Linked DNA regions of Homo sapiens: region 2 is linked to region 1. Evidence: fine-mapped expression QTL. A gene starts in region 1. The other region holds a variant in brackets. All regions are shown on one strand. Distances are from middle to middle.

Region 1 (2,917 bases):
ATACAGTAGAAAGCTGTATTCTCCAGGAAATCCCTTCCATATTTGCATAACCAATCCCTTCAGAGCAAAGGTGGAGTCTTTTCTTTTTAATCTTACTTTAATTGTAATATCAAAAAATATATACTCCAAAACTTAGACCCCATGCCGTTTAATATCATGCTCTCCCTTCCCTGCTAAGTTTCTCTATGGCCTTTCTCGTTTCTCCTCCTGCCTCCCTACACACTCTCCCTTACTTTGTAGTGAGGTCTCCCCGAGGTGTAGAGAGATTCAGAGATCGGCCAACCGAGTGTTCTATTTTAATTTACTTAGAGACCCTTTATTAAAATGCCAAACTACTTTTTAATATTGGGATCCAGTCCAGAAATTCATCATGCACACACCCTAATACACATGCCCTAAGATGCAGCTCCCATGCAGCATTTTTTTTTCTGGCTCTGGTACCTAAAAAGAAAAAAATAACAATAAGAGAAAGGGCAGAGAACTTTGTTCCAGAAGCTGTACTGAGATACCTACACAATTTGATGTGCATCTCAAATCTGGTCATTAGAGATATCTGTATAAGAAGAGACTATCTGGATTGAGGACCCGGGATCTTTCCCTTTAACTTTCGCCCCTTGGAGTTCTCCAGTTCTGTGAATGGTGTGCACCGTTTTCCGCCCTGTACTCTGTAGGATTTAGTGATGAGGATAATGATGCCAAAGGCTTGACGGGCGGGGAGGGGGGGGTGGAGGGGGGGAGAAGGGAGGGAGGGGGGAGGGAGGCGAAGGCGAAAGGGAGGGAGAGGAGGAAGGGAGGGAGGTGGAATTTCATTTCTTCCACTAAAGCGTTTGCGGAGACTTCAAGGTATAATCTATCCCAGATCCTTTCCCAGAGAGAAACTTGGCGATCACGTTTTCACATGATGCTCACGCTCAGGGCGCTTCAATTATCCCTCCCCACAAAGATAGGTGGCGCGTGTTTCAGGGTCTCTCGTCTCTCTCCTACAGAAAAGAAAAAGAAAAAAATGTCATTAGAAGAGGCGTAACACGTCAGTCCGTCCCCAGGTTTGTGTTTCCTGGAGTGGCCGAAAGAGATCAGTTCTAACCTGCTCTGCAGGAATAACGGTCCTGCCTCCCGACACTCTTGGCGAGGTTTTTGTACAGTTTGCTCCGGGAGCTGTTTCTTCGCTTCCACCTTTTTCTCCCCCACACTTCGCGGCTTCTTCATGCTTTTTCTTCTCACCATTTCTGGCCAAAACTACAAACAAGACTTCGCAGGTAGGTTTTTTTTCCTCCCCTTTTCTCTCTTTTTATCCCTTTTTGGTGTGCTCGTCCTCCATCCTCCTTTTCTAATTTTCTCATTTTGAGTGGGGATGTGAGTCTGAAGTGAGAAGGGGTGTCCGTGGGTAGGAATTTCAGGTGGGTTTAGCTCCTTTATGGCAAGCTTTTCTCAAGAGTGGCTTCTTCGCTTTCTCTTACACTCACACTCTCTCTCCTTGCTTTTCTCTCCTTTTTCCCTCCCCCAAATAATTTCCCCTGTACCTGTTCATTCAGGTAACCAAAGGTGTCCTTTGCTATCCAGCCCAGGAAAAGTTTTATTGAGAATTATATGGCTGGAATAAAAACTCATCAAGGGGAGAGGTCCTGCTCTATTTTCGCATCTAGTTCCAATTCATTATATTCAGCAATTAGGACTTGGCAAATACCTGTTAATAATTACAAAACTTGGTCAGTTACAGACCTACAAATTCGGGGGCAAGTCTTTCTCTTAGACATGGCAGTTCATCCTCTCCCACCGAGAAGGCTGTTTTCTAAGCAGAAAGTTGTCTGTTTTTGTCTGCTTAGCGAGTTTCATTTCTTTATTTCATTCTTTGTGTGTGTATGTGTGTGAAGTAACACCTCACTTCTGTGATTATAAATAAAGAAGTGAAAGTCCTCATGGAACTTGAGTCGTTTACCAAAGTGGAGGGGGGGGCACTACAGCTGGGAAGAAAACTGCTGTCAGGATATCAGGGTTTTAAATTAGGATAACTTTTAAAATTGTATTTTTAGTGGCAAAGTAATATAGACATGGATTTAATAGAAGACACATACACACATATATCCCATTCCATACTTTGGCACTGAAAAGTCGAGAGAGAGATAGCAGGAGTTCCCAGGAACAGTGATGAGCCCGGCTAACATGAATGTGTTTATCTCCCACCTACTGATATATTTTACATGCTCCCCCTGTAATGATGAAGGCAAGATTACTAACTCCAGACTTAGGAGTAACAGGCAAAGATAAAGTTTACAGCACAAATGCCCTGTCTCTCTCTCTCACACACACACATGCCCATAAAACTAGCAACTTACTTTATTAAACATGTATTTATATGCAGTCGTGTGTCTCAGGATGAATATAGACAGGCCAGCTGTTTCATCCCAGACACTTGTGTGACCATTTCTTTATTTCAGGATTTCCCCTAACAATTTCAAATCAATAGGACAAGGAAAGAAATGATAAAATATGTCAAACTTAAAAGTCTCCTACTATGTATGCCTAGGTAAATTTAAGGTGCTTTCTAAAATATCCACTTCCCCTTCTCTCTGCCCCCCTCCCTTCACCCCTCTCAGCAAATGTGTGGAAACTGATACTCACTTTCCAGGTTTTCTGCAAAGCTTCTAGCACAGGAGACAATAGGTGTGGGGCGTGGGGACTGAGTGTGCCCGGCAGAGAAAGGGTTAATGGCCCTTGTGTTACAGTTTGCATCTGTTACATCTTTTATAGCCCCCTGTTTAAACTAATCCTCGAGGCACAGCATCTTCCCAACCTCCACCGAGTTTTCAGGATTCTCCTCCTCTCCTGCCTGCCTCCGAGGTCCCCCTTCTCCAAGTTTTGACAGTTTCAACTGAAAAAATGCAGCGCCTCTCTCGATTTTTAGGTACAAAAGTTTCGA
Region 2 (2,917 bases), 850 kb after region 1:
GAGGGGAATAAAAGTAGAAGATATAAATAAAGGTGGCTGAAATGTGGTTGGGAGCAGAAGTGGGTTTGCTCAGAGGATGTTGAGAAGCAGCAAGAGCTTTTCTGTATGGGGTCTGATTCTTAGAGTTTTCAAGCCTCTTCTGTCTATTCCATGGTAATTCATGGACTGCCACACTGGGGCTCAATTCCTCCCTGGTGTCTGAAGTCTGCCTTTACCTTAAGCACTAATGGGCATTTAAGAAACTCTAGTCTACATGCCTTGCACACACAGCTTGAACAGGATGCTACCCTTGTTGCTTGTGTCAGCCTAAACTTAACTTCAGCATGATACACTGGACTTCCACTTGGTGCCCTTTTGCCTCCATTTTGGTGTTCTCAGATCAGATATATCCTGGCTCCCTCCATACTGGAGCCCTGTGGCCATCTCCCTGTCCTTCAGGTCTGAGAACTCTCATTTTCCCAGACTAGCAGAATACCCTGAGGCAAGTGTTTTGCTGGATTATAAAATATATTTTCTAGGATCTGAATGTTTGTGTTTCCTCAAAATTCGTATGTTGAAACCTAATTAGGTAATGGGATTAGTGCCTTTATGAAAGAGGCCCCAGAGAGCTGCCTTGCCCCTTCCAGCATTGTGGGGACACAGCTAGAAGGTGTCATCTGTGAACTAGGAAATGTAGTTCAACAAACCATGGCTGTTGCTATCATTACCTTTTAAAATTTCCACATGGTACCTATACTTGTGGCTGTCCTTCAAAGGTCTGAGCCATAACATGGGAGGTTTAGTTTGTTCATTCATTAATTCATTCAATCTGCTGTACTCTAGGCACTGTTCTAGGCATTAGATCTAAGTTTGTGCTTTCCTCACTGGGTTCCATCTTGGTATAGGTAAGTGATTCATGTCCAACTATGCCTCAAAATAGGAGACATGGGAGAGGTAATATAGTACAGTGGGTAAGGAAGCTGGCTTTGACATTACACAGGTGAAGTTTGAACACAAGCCTTTCTACTGGGCAGCTGAATAAGGTAAATAAGTTTTCTATACCTGAAATTTTCTTATCTGAAAAATAGAGACAATTATACTATCTATCTCCTAGGGTTGCTGTGAAGTTTAAGTGGATACTTTTAGTGTGCTTAGATTAGCACCTGGTCCATAAATGCTCAATCAATGTTAGCTATAATTAAGGTTTTAAGGTTTAAGCTCAGGGGTCTGAGGCCTGATAGTTTAGACTTTCAACCTGGTTACCAATTCCAATGTTAAAAAACAATTAAAATTCTGATTCTTTTATAGAGAGAAGACTATTTCTTTTAAATTATATTTTACCTCTAAATGAATTT[AATTTT/T]TCTCCCATCCTTCCTCTTTGGGAAATATTATTGGAACCAAATTTTGTGGTATAAATCAGAATAATTTTGTGGCCTAGATCCTTGATTTTATGGAGAATTCTTGAAGAGTTTCATTGGAATTGTCTATGTATTTAGCTTCAGATGGAAAGCTGAAATTACTCATCAAAGGATTGCAATAAGAGTGATTTGAACCACAAGTATATCAGAACTTCAGGCTTCTCTAAGACAAGAAAATAACTGACAGATGAACTGCAGAAAAAGAAATGGGGTGACTTATTTAGACTGAGATGGTCATGTAGGCTGTATAAAAAAGAAGAGTCAGATAACAGGCTTGTCAAACTAGCTAATTGCACCTGCAAACAAAGGACATAGTTTAAAGCATGGGTTTTAGAAAGGAATGCTAGTCTCTCATTTGTATTTTCAGCTGGATCTGCATACATGGGTAGGATCACCACAATTGACGATGTCATCTTTGAATAGGGAGGAATAGAGACTCACACAGAGCTTGCACCAGGGAGATTCTACACACAGATGAACAATTCATTAGCCATTCAGAGCTGAAAGCTGCCGCCTAACTTTGCTCTGTATGCTGAAAACAATGCAATGATCAAAAAAGAAAAAAAAAAAAAGAAAATAGAATCAAGGCAGTAAGGTAACCCTTTAGGAAGTGATGGGAGTGTTACATCAACATATTGTCAAGATCCAGATAAATCTGAATATCTACACAGTACTTTCTATCCTATGAGATTTGAAACTTAGACTTCATTTCAGATTTGCGAACAGTGTTACCTAGTTCCCATTCTAAAATTACTAAATCTACAAAACATGCTTCAACCCTTTCTCCTTCAACTTTTTTTTTTAAATGTTTCTCTTTTTAAAAATATGTATTTTTAAAAAATATATTTTTATATATGTATTTTTTGAGACAGGGTCTTGCTCTGTCACCCAGGCTGGAGTGCAGTGGTGCAAACATAGCTCGCTGCAGCCTCAACTTCCTGGGTTCAGGTGATCCTTCCATCTCAGCTTCCTGAGTAGATGGCACAACAGGCACATGCCACCAAGCCTGGCTAATTTTTGTATTTTTGGTAGAGAGAGTTTCACCACGTTGCCTAGGCTGGTTTCAAACTCCTGAGCTCAAGCAATCCACCTTGGCTTCCTGAAGTGCTGGGATTACAGGTGGGAGCCACCGTGCCCTGCCATCAGTGTATTTTTTTTTCTGAAATTTTATAATAAGTTATCACAAATTATGATAAATTGCATTTTCCCAAAGATTAAATTAACAAACTTCCCTTGAGCACTTCTTTTCTTTTTTTTTTTTTTTTTTTTTAATTTTTTTTAAATTATACTTTAAGTTTTAGGGTACATGTGCACATTGTTCAGGTTAGTTACATGTGTATACATGTGCCATGCTGGTGCGCTGCACCCACTAACTCGTCATCTAGCATTAGGTATATCTCCCAATGCTATCTCTCCCCCCTCCCCCGACCCCACCACAGTCCCCAGAGTGTGATATTCCCCTTCCTGTGTCCATGTGATCTCATTGTTCAATTCCCACCTATGAGTGAGAATATGCGGTG

Alleles and levels. Positions count from the first base shown, and alleles are read on the strand shown. Sizes are in standard deviations (SD) of each study's normalised expression.
With allele AATTTT in place of T in region 2, the expression in tibial nerve of the gene that starts at base 1,581 in region 1 is higher (moderate effect, 0.47 SD a copy in GTEx).

Evidence for each region. PIP is the estimated chance that this variant, and not a neighbour inherited with it, causes the effect.
Region 2: its variant is the best candidate, but not a certain one, in a credible set for the expression of ZEB2-AS1 in tibial nerve (GTEx, PIP 0.59).

Annotation. Positions count from the first base shown.
Region 1 is chr2:144,518,278-144,521,194 of GRCh38, reverse strand. ZEB2-AS1 (ZEB2 antisense RNA 1) reads right to left here and starts at 1,581. Exons shown (of 4, transcript NR_040248.2): 1 at 1,521-1,581; 2 at 1,085-1,236; 3 at 910-980; 4 at 296-441. ZEB2 (zinc finger E-box binding homeobox 2) reads left to right here and starts at 1,076. Exons shown (of 10, transcript NM_014795.4): 1 at 1,076-1,256.
Region 2 is chr2:143,667,333-143,670,249 of GRCh38, reverse strand. All of the region lies in intron 12 of ARHGAP15 (Rho GTPase activating protein 15), which reads right to left. The region is part of intron 4 of ARHGAP15-AS1 (ARHGAP15 antisense RNA 1); the gene reads left to right. Among named protein-coding and RNA genes, the nearest start is that of ARHGAP15-AS1, 110 kb to the left of the region's middle. The variant AATTTT/T (reference allele first, on the strand shown) is at 1,335.